2 separate regions of the Homo sapiens genome follow, and region 2 is linked to region 1. The links come from fine-mapping of genetic effects on gene expression. A gene starts in region 1. The other region holds a variant in brackets. All regions are shown on one strand. Distances are between the middles of the regions. Region 1 holds the start of METTL16 (methyltransferase 16, RNA N6-adenosine). Region 2 overlaps METTL16 (methyltransferase 16, RNA N6-adenosine).

The links. PIP is the estimated chance that this variant, and not a neighbour inherited with it, causes the effect.
Region 2: its variant is the best candidate, but not a certain one, in a credible set for the expression of METTL16 in subcutaneous fat (GTEx, PIP 0.79).

The regions. Positions count from the first base shown.
Region 1 is chr17:2,508,863-2,514,240 of GRCh38, forward strand. METTL16 (methyltransferase 16, RNA N6-adenosine) reads right to left here and starts at 3,026. Exons shown (of 10, transcript NM_024086.4): 1 at 2,897-3,026. RefSeq lists enhancers at 2,897-3,106, 3,177-3,226.
Region 2 is chr17:2,422,362-2,427,739 of GRCh38, forward strand. The region is part of intron 8 of METTL16 (methyltransferase 16, RNA N6-adenosine); the gene reads right to left. Among named protein-coding and RNA genes, the nearest start is that of MNT, 24 kb to the left of the region's middle. The variant G/T (reference allele first, on the strand shown) is at 2,713.

The DNA.
Region 1 (5,378 bases):
CTTTCCCCTTCCAGACATACTGGTCTTCTTCCATTTTCTCTGCTGCATGGTAGTCTGTCTCACCATCTCCTATTCTTACTGCCTGTAAGACTCTCCTCAACCTCCCACCATCGCCTTTCACCTCTGAAGGTCCACTAGCTACTCAAATCACACCCTAGGCATCATTTACTCAGGCAGCCTTTCTCTGACCCCACAATCCAATCAGATGCCCATCTACACGCTTTCAAAGCACCCTGTGCTGCTTCTCCCTCAGAGATCTTCAGTTTACTACTGGGTGTGTAATTAATTTGCATATGTCACACATAGACCTGCAACCATATCCATCCTAGTCTTTACTATACCCCCAGCAACCTGTATACAATAAATATTTTTTGAGTAAACAATTCAGAATTTGAGGGGATTAGTAGTCACCTGAAAGTTTTTCAGCATACTGTTACTACATTTTGCCCCTCACACTATGACTAAAAATGACTATATACCTGTCTTAATTTCCTAGCATTGACATACCCTTTACTGACCATCAGGAAAGAGGGGAGCATAAAACTAGGATGGCCCCCAGTTCTCAAGAAAACATCAACTGGGCAAGGTGGTGCATGCCTGTGTTCCTAGCTACTAGGGATGCCAAGGATAGCTTGAGCCCAGGAGTTCCAGTCCAGCCTGGGCCACACAGTGAGACCCTGTCTCAAAATAAACAAATACAAATAATAGACTTTATTAAAAAGAAAATATCCAAAATTAAAGTGTTGGCCGGGCACAGTCGCTCACGACTATAATCCCAACACTTTCGGAGGCCAAGACTGGAGGATCACCTGAGGTCAGGAGTTTGTGAGACCAGCCTGGCCAACATGGAGACCATCCTGGCCAACATAGTGAAACCCTATCTCTACTAAAAATACAAAAATTAGCTGGGTGTGGTGGCATGTGCCTGAAGTCCCAGCTACTTGGGAGGCTGAGGCAGGAGAATCACTTGAATTCAGGAGGCCGAAGTTGCAGTGAGCCAAGATCACGCCACTGCACTCCAGCCTGGTGACAGAGCAACACTCCGTCTCAAAAAAAAAAAAAAAATTAGCTGGGCGTGGTGGTGGGTGCCTGTAATCCCAGCTACTCGGGAGGCTGAGGCAGGAGAATCACTTGAACCCAGGAGGTGGAGGTTGCAGTGAGCCAAGATCGTGCTACTGCACTCCAGCCTTGGTGACAGTGAAACTGTCTCAAAAAAAAAAAAGAAAAAGAAAATGTTCTTTCTTGTGATTCTGGCAAGCAACAAAAAAAAGTAAACTAAGAGTAATTTCTTTAAACTGATGGAAAATATTTTCCCAATTTATGGGGGACATGTGACATTTATGCGGTATTTGTTCCACGCATAGAATGTGTGCTGATCAAGTCAGAGTATATGGGGTATTCACCACTTTGAGTATTTTTTATATCTATGTATTGGTAACATTTCAAGCCCTCTCCTAGCTATTTTGAAATATACATTGTTGCTGACTTTAGTCACCATATCCTAACAGTGACTTCAAGAGACAGTGGCATGTTAGGGCTCTGCCACACATTAAGGAAAATTCTACAGACTACATAGCTGACATCAGTGCACACACAACATAATACTCTGAATATATGTGAAACAAATTAAATTACAGACATGGCAGATTCGATTCATTTCCTACATTATTCAACTTTTCTGGTCAGAACAGATACAGAATGAGTAAATACAACCACTTCTTTTCTAACTAACCTCCCAATATAGGCAATGAGTTCTTAGCTAAATATAACCTATTCTTCAGAGTTTAACTGGGCATCAATTCTTTTTTTTTTCTTCTTGTTGAGACAAGGTCTTCCATTCTGTTGCCCAGAGTGCAATGATGGAATCATAGCTCCCTGCAGCCTCCAACTCCTGAGATCAAGCAATCCTCCCGCCTGAGCCTCCCAAGCAGCTGGGACTACAGGTACAGAGCACTGCACCTGGTTAATTTACTTCATTTTTTGTAGAAAGGGAGTCTGGCTTTGCTACCCAGGCTCTAGCTTCAATTTTCTACACAGAATTTACCCATCTGGCATTCCATATATTTTACTTACTTTAAAAAATCTCCCGTCAGTAAGTTTCAAGAGGGTAAATATTTTGTCTGTCTTGTTCACCGCATATCCCAACGCCTAAAATAGGGCCTAAGAGAGTAGGCACTCAAGTATTTGTTGATTGAAACCACGATAGAACTCTTCCCTGTCTGGACCACCGACACAAAGCACCCTCACTGAGTTTCAAAAAAAGCTCAGCCCATGGACTGGAACTTTTCTTCCCGGTTACTTGAGTCAGTCCAGAAAGCCACAGTTAATAGTAGAACCCTGAGAATGAGGCTTTCCCTTTTTTTTTTTTTCTTTCTCATCTCCATGCTTCTGTTTCCTTGGTTCCTCTTGACCATTAACCCTCTTCAACTACCACTCTCTTGATACACAGCCTGTAAAACAGTCTAAATTCCAATTTCAGAACTTCAAATTCTTTCTGCACAGATCCCTCCCACTTCCACACCAATCTACATCTTCTCTCTTCGCCTTCTCTCATAAATCCGACGTTTCCCACTAGTCCTGCCACTGCCGTTCTTTCCATGCCCTCATTTTATCAGCTCAGTTTGTCTTCCCGCCTCAGTTTTGGATCTCTCTAAACCTCCTAAACACCGGGGAGTCTTTCCTACTTCAGTCCTAGTCTCTATTCTATTCGCCAACTCCTCCCACTCATCCACTCTCAACACCCCCGCGTGCGCACACACAGCCACATCAGGTCTCCCCTCCTAGACCCCGAAGTCGGCACCTCACTAGCCCAAAACTCAAGAATGAGGAACCCGTGTGATCCACGGGTTAAGTGACCCATGATAGTAAATCTGCGTGAGAGATATAAGTGACCCACCTCTGAGGCCGAGGTTCCTGCCAGACGTCGTGTCTGGCGTGGGCCTGTACAACCCTAGAATCTTAAAGCAGCCGCATAGCGAAGCTCCTAGAAACGCAGATGATACGCTCCCAGCGCGCCGCCATCTTGTGAAGCCATCTAGCCTCGTGATTGGACACATCCCTCTCGCGCGACCTGTGGCTGATCTTGAAGAAAGAAGAAACCCTCGCGACACCTGGGGTTTGCTGCTCCTAACAGAAGGCGCGGGGGCGTGGTGACGAGCGGAGTCCTTTGAGGTATGGCAGGAGGAGGACATGCGTTCGAATTCGCGAGAAAACTTATTTAAAAGAAAAAGAAACAAGTTTTCCGGGCCCTGCTGCAGACTTACCTCTCACACTCACTGGGATTGGGCAGGTTATGAAGATGAGGGTACGAGACTTGGGTGTGATGGCGTGCAGTGAGCCCTTTTTGTGCAACAGGTGTGTCCTCAGCCGATGTCTCACTCACTGAATTGTAAGAGATATAAGCCTGTGGGTTGGGGAAGAGTACTCTCGTTTACAGCGAAAGAACTGAGGATCCGGCCGGACGCGGCGGCTCACGCTTGTAATCCCAGCACTTTGGGAGGCTGAGGCGGGCAGATCACCTGAGGTCAGGAGTTCAAGACCAGCCTGGACAACATGGTGAAACCCCGTCTCTACTAAAAATACAAAAATTAGCCGGGCGTGGTGGCGGGCGCCTGTAATCCCAGCTACTCGGGAGGCTGAGGCAGGAGAATCGCTTGAATCCGGGAAGCGGAGGTTGCAGTGAGCCAAGATCGCACCACTGCACTCCAGCCTGAGCGAAAGAGCAAGACTCTGTCTCAAAAAAAAAAAAAAAAGGGGGGGCCTGCCTACGTCCTCGTCGTTAATGTGAACGCTTCTGGCAAACTATTACCATAAAATTGGGAGATAGTAAGGATTAAGGAATGGAGACTTATACACAAGTGAGTACCAGTAGTCACCCAAGGAAAGCTGAGGAGGTGTTTTCATAATCTGTTGTGTAACAAACCGCCCCAAAACGTAAGACTTAAAACAACCACCATTTTACTTGCTCACAGTTCTGCAATCTGGGCTGGGATTAGCCCACCCGTTCTGCTGGTCTTGCCAGTGGTCATAGCAACAAGTGGGGGCTGGTTCCGCTGAAAGAACTGGGTCTCTCTCCCTGTAGTCCAAGTTCTCTCCCTGTCCACGTGGCCTTTCCATGTAATTTGTCTAGCAGAGTAGGATGACATTTTTTTTTTCCCCCGAGATGGAGTTTCTTATTGCCCAGGCTGGAGTGCAATGGCGCCATCTCGGCTCACTGCATGCAACCTCTGCCTCCTGGGTTCAAGCGATTTTCTTGCCTCAGCCTCCCAAGTAGCTGAGTAGCTGAGATTACAGGCGCCCGCCACCATGCCCAGCTAATTTTTTGTATTTTTAGTAGAGACGGGGTTTCATCCTGTTGGCCAGGCTGGTCTCAAACTCCTGACCTCAGATGATCCACCCGCCTCGGCCTCCCAAAGTACTGAGATTACAGGCATGAGCCATCGTGCCCCGCCAGAATACTTCTTACATGTTGGCTCGGGGCTCCCAAAAGGGCAAAAGTGGAAGCTGCCAGGCCTTCTTAAAGCGTAGGTGCAGAACTAGCACCTTGGCTATATTCTTGGTTAAAGCAAGTAGAAGGGCTAGCCCCAATTCAAGGGGAGGGGACTATGCCAGGGTCCCTTCCAATACTGGAAGGCATGGTTCATTTCAGCAACCAATGTAACATATTACCACAGAAAGTTTTCCATCTTTGGTTGGTAGTGGCTTTGATACTAGTTATGGCATTTTATTTAGTGCATGCTGCTGGAAAGGTAAAAGAAAAGATGGCCTCGGAGATAGGACTGGTGGGGTTGAAGTGATTGTATTTAAGATATTGGTAACTTTCTGTTAGCTCCAAAGAGCAACCCAGTTTACCTGTAGGTCGGGCCAGAGAGACCCTAGTAGCACTGCAGCTGGGAAACCTGGCCTTTAATCCTGCCCCCACCATTTACTAACCCTGTGAGTATGGGCAATTTGCTTAAACACTTGAAGGCTTAGTTTGCTCAATATTACAAAATAGGATAATAATCTCATGGGGTTGTGAGAATTAAATCAGATAATGCATATAAAACAGCAGAATGTCTAGTATATAGTGAGTTCCTAATAATAATAATATTGTTCCTTATAACTTCTCTGGTCAGTTTTTTTTAAGTATTCCATAAAGATAAAACATTTTAATAACTGAAAATTTTTAAATAATTTAAATAATACATAAAGATATCAGAAAGACAAAAATTATCTAAAATCTCACCACTCACAGCCAAGCACCATCAAATTTGGGTAACCTTACTACTAAACCTCTATATCTCATAAGGATATATAACCAAATAATTTTTATACAAATAATAATATATATTTGTATATATATGTAATTACATATATATACACACACACACATGCAC
Region 2 (5,378 bases), 87 kb before region 1:
CCACCACTGTATTGAAAATTTATTTATTCATTTATTTATTTTTGAGATGGAATCTCACTCTGTCACTGGAGTGCAATGGCGCCATCTCGGCTCACTGCAACCTCCACCTCCGGTTTCAAGCGATTCTCCTGCCTCAGCCTCCCAAGTACCTGGGACTACGTCACCAAGCCCAGCCAATTTTTGTATTTTTAGTAGAGACGGGGTTTCACCATGTTGGCCAGGATGGTCTCGATCTCTTGACCTCGTGATCCACCCACCTCGGCCTCTCAAAGTGCTGGGATTACAAGTGTGAGCCACCGTGTCCAGCCTGAGAATTTCTTTCTTTAAAGTAGAAACTTTAGGCTGGGTGTGGTGGCTTATGCCTGTAATCCCAGCACTTTCGGAGGCCGAGGCGGCCGGATGGATTGAGCTCAGGAGTTTGAGACCAGCCTGGCCAACATGGTGAAACCCCATCTCTAGTAAAAATACAAAAATTAGCCGGGTGTGGTGGCCGCGCCTGTAATTCCAGCTACTCGGGAGGCTGAGGCAGGAGAATCACTTGAACCCAGGAGGTGCAGGTTGCAGTGAGATGAGATTGCGCCACTGCACTCCAGCCTGGAGACAGAAGGAGACTGTGTCTCAAAAACAACAACAACAAAAAGGATAAAAAAGAAAAAACACCAAGTCAGGTTTGAAGATCTTTTTCTGCTAAAAGGAATCTGACGACTGCTACTGATCATTCCAGTCGTACCTGGCCACACTGACAGCGCACACGCACACATGCAGACACCACAGGTTCTGATTACTGGGGGACGTCTTCTAATAAGAACTAACCAGCGGCCTCACACTGCATACATACACAACAACCTAACCAGTTTATTCTATACTAGGAAACTGTTAGGGAAGGATAAAAAACAAAGGGTGTGTGTGTGTGTGTGTGTGTGTGTGTGTGTGTGTGTGTGTTTGAAGAACCTGCTCTTGAGAAATGAATAGTGGACTCTAAGACCTGTCTGAACCTGAACTTGTTCAATTATGTTTCAGACAAGATGAGACAAATTCATATTGACATTAAGACAGTCATATTGTTATTACTCAATCATCCTGCATGAGAAACATAATTTCTAGTCTACTGAGAGCCTAACGCTTTGCAGTAAGGAGCTTACAATAAGCGTATTAAGCTGGGGAAGAAGCGTATTAAGCCGGTGTGTGGGAGGATGATGGGGGTGGAGAATCAGACTCCCCATTCCCCGTCCCAACATCAAAGGCCATGACCATGGAGAGCTCACTGCAACCTGGCCCTCCCTGCCAGCCCGCCCTGTACAGCAAAGGTCACCTACAAGCATGGCTAAAAGGGCAGCACTTCCCATCTCTTCTCACAGAAGGAGTGATCATTTTGCTCACAAATTCTGACCAGTAAAGTCAGGATATTGCTGTTTCTCATTATGCTAAAGCTGACCTGCGACACTCTTTCTCCAAAAGTAAGGACGGGCTTCATCATTTCTAGAGATTAAAATAAGAAAATACATCTTTACCAACCTGACAAGAACTCTATCAGGGATACTTTCAGAGTTCTGAGGAAGTCAGAAATCACAAAATCGACAACTTATTACCCAGTTATCTCAGGACTAAAATGAAAACTTCCCTCTCTCAAATATGGCTCCTTCACCTGCATCCTGACCCAACTTTCCCATATACAATGGTCAGTCAACAAACTTGATATTCCTGAAGATTTTTTAAAAAATTTTCCTTTTATTTTATTTTATTTTATTTTATTATTTTATTTTTTTTTTTGAGACGGAGTCTCGCTCTGTCGCCCAGGCTGGAGTGCAGTGGCGGGATCTCGGCTCACTGCAAGCTCCGCCTCCCGGGTTCACGCCATTCTCCTGCCTCAGCCTCCCAAGTAGCTGGGACTACAGGCGCCCGCCACTACGCCCGGCTAATTTTTTGTATTTTTAGTAGAGACGGGGTTTCACCGTTTTAGCCGGGATGGTCTCGATCTCCTGACCTCGTGATCCGCCCGCCTCGGCCTCCCAAAGTGCTGGGATTACAGGCGTGAGCCACCGCGCCCGGCCTTATTTTTATTTTTTAAATAGAGAAGGGTCTTGCTATATTGATTGCCCAGGCTGGTCTGGAACTCATAGGCTGAAGCTCTCCATCTGCCTCAGCCTCCCAAAGTGTTCGGACTCCAGGCCTGAGCCACTGCGCCAGCTGCATTCGGAAGATTTCTAATGAACTGCTCTAGCACACACATGCACACACATCATCTCAGGACGGTCTTCAATTTGGCTTTGCTCTACTATAGAAACTAGACATTAAGAGACAGACAGGCCAGGCGCAGTGGCTCACGCCTGTAATCCCAGCATTTTGGGAGGCTGAGGTGGGTGGATCACAAGGTCGGGAGATTGAGACCATCCTGGACAATATGGTGAAATCCCATCTCTACTAAAAATACAAAAAATTAGCCAGGCGTGGCGGCACACGCCTGTAGTCCCAGCTACTTGGGAGGCTGAGGTGGGAGAATGGCGTGAACCCGGGAGGCGGACCTTGCAGCGAGCAGAGATCGCGCCACTGCACTCCAGCCTCGGTGACAGAGCGAGACTCCGTCTCAAAAAAAAAAAAAAAGACAGATAATTCATACTCCAGGAGTTCTCAGGCAAGGCTTTTAAATGATGAAAGATTAACTGAAGTATGGCTCACAGCAGTTGTTCAGTCCCCTCTTATTTATCATGAAAA[G/T]TCCTCGTGGGCAGGGTCACAGTAAAATATAGGATCAAGTTCTAAGAAATTAATAGTTAAATTCAACACCACAGCTCTCTGGTCGTAGGCAATTTTTACATTTTGCTGCAAACACTAGTACATAGAAGCTGTCAGTTTTTCCCCAATTGAAATGATCTTATTTTGCTAATATCCTTATAATTGCAAAACACAAATATTTTAAATGAAGAGTGCTACACTCAAACTGTCATAATCTAGTTTAGCAGGCAAGGCGTACATAAATAATTCAACATTTTAAAGTCTACCCCAAAACCAATCATTTACAATGATTAATCCAGTTTAATGCAAAGAACTAGGTGAATTTACAGCTGATTTTGGATTTGAAGATGCACTGCTGGAATTACAATGTGAGAGAAGCCTGGTGAGCAGTCGTAGGTCTGCAGAGACCACAGGTTTTATATCTTTTGAATTCCAAGTAGTCAAGGAATGATCATCAATAAGAGAGGAACTGCAAGCGTTAAAAACACATTAGATCACAGAAGCCATCAATCAGGCACAAACAAACAAACAAACAAAAAACCAGTTCTTAAATTTTAAAATATGCTACGTAGCAGGGTGGTCTACAAATTTCTTTTCTTGTCTTTTTTTTTTTGAGACAGGGTCATGCTCTGGCACCCAGGCTGGAGTGCAGTGGCGCAATTACGGCTCAGTGCAGCCTCCACCTCCTAGGCTCAAGTGATCCTCCCACCTCAGTCTTCTGAGTAGCAGGGACTATAGGTGTGTGCCACCATGCCTAGCTAATTTTTGTATTTTTTGTAGAGATGGGGTTCTGCCATGTCGCCCAGACTGGTACAAATTTGAATCTTCACTTTAATTTCTAAATCTCAATGATGCCATCAGCCAAGAAACTTTCACATGTGGTGTAGCTTGACACAGATCAGTGTAGCATGTTATGTCTCCGTTAATTATGGCTAAGGCAAAAAAAAAAAAAAAAAGCCACAGGCTGAATGAAATCATTAAATTCTCTCTAGTATTTGCAGGAAGAGAAGAGCCATTCTACAGAGAAATCTGGTGCGCACGAAGCCACAACCTCTTTGTTTTGGCAAAGCAGCTTCTAGAAAAACCTCAAGTGGAAAGGGGACAGGGCAGAGAGGAGACCCCAGTGCAGTGGCCGTCTGTTTTTTAAAAGAGATAGGGAGTTACAATGTTGCCCAGGCTGGCCTTGAACTCCTGTGCGCAGGTGATTCTCTCACTTCAGCCTCCCAAGTAGCTGCAACTACAGGTGCACATCACCACACCCAGCCCATTTCTTTCATCTTAATCTGACAGGTCGTTGTTTAAAATGTCCTGAAATCACCCCCAGGAGTACGTAAAAACAGTAAAAAGTAAAAATAGCAGCCGGGTGCCATGGCTCACGCCTGTAATCCCAGCACTTTGGGAGGCTGAGGCAGGTAGATCACAAGGTCAGGAGATCAAGACTAGCCTGGCCAACATGGTGAAACCCCATCTCTACTAAAAATATAAAAATTAGTTGGGCATGGTGGCACGTGTCTATAATCCCAGCTACTCGGCAGGCTGAGGCAGGAGAATTGCTCGAACCAGGGAGTCGGAGGTTGCAGTGAGCCGAGATCACGCCACTGGACTCCAACCTGGGTGACAGAGCAAGACTCCGTCTCAAAAAAAAAAAAAAAAAAAAAAAAGTAAAAATAGCAAGGGGAAGAAAACTATTGCAGAATGCTACCTATTTAAGAAGGAATGATTATAAATACATACGTGTATTTCTTTGAATTTGAAAAAATGGGTCAGGCACGGTGGCTCATGCCTGCAATCCCAGCACTTTTGGAGGCCAAGGCAGGCAGATCACTTGAGGTCAGTAGTTCCAGACCAGCCTGGCCAACATGGTGAAACCCCATCTCTACTAAAAATACGAAAAAAAAAAAAAGAGCCGGGCATGGAGGCATACACCTGTAATCCCAGCTGCTCGGAAGACTGAGGCAGGAGAATAATAGCTTGAACCCAGGAGGCAGGGCCTGCAGTGAGCCGACATCGTGCCACAGCACTCCAGCCTGGGCAACGGAGCAAGACCCTGGCTCAAAAATATAAATACAAATAAAGGAATGATAAATTATAAAACTGTTTAAATAGTAACCCATGAAGAAGTAAAGGATTAGGGTGAATGAGATAGAAGAAAGAAGTCAGACTTCTGACCATTCTTTTGAGATTTTTTTCATTTCACAGGTAGAGAAATAAGAAATATATTTTATTACAAAACAAAACTAACAACAAAAAAGGCACTCCCTAAAAATCTGAAGATGATGAAACAAACGAACCTCTGTCCTGACTCCATGCAGAAAATTCAGAGTGGAAACGTTCCAAATGACTTTGAAATCCATCATGAGAGTCTCCAAGGACAAAAAAGAATTGTAAAAGTAAAAAAGTAGCTATTTTCAGAAATCACTTTGTTGATGGTAATGTTACTTTTGAGACTCCTGGGGCATATTGTGAGATAAAGTTAATGAGTAATATGTTGGCTGAGGACTGGAGTTTTTGGCATGGGATTCTTTTATTTTTTTAAGAGATAGGGTCTTCTGTGTTGCCCAGGCTGGCCTCAAACACCTGAGCTCAAGTGATCCCCCCGCCTCAGCCTCCTGAGTAGCTAGGATTACAGGCGTGCACCACCGCAGTCA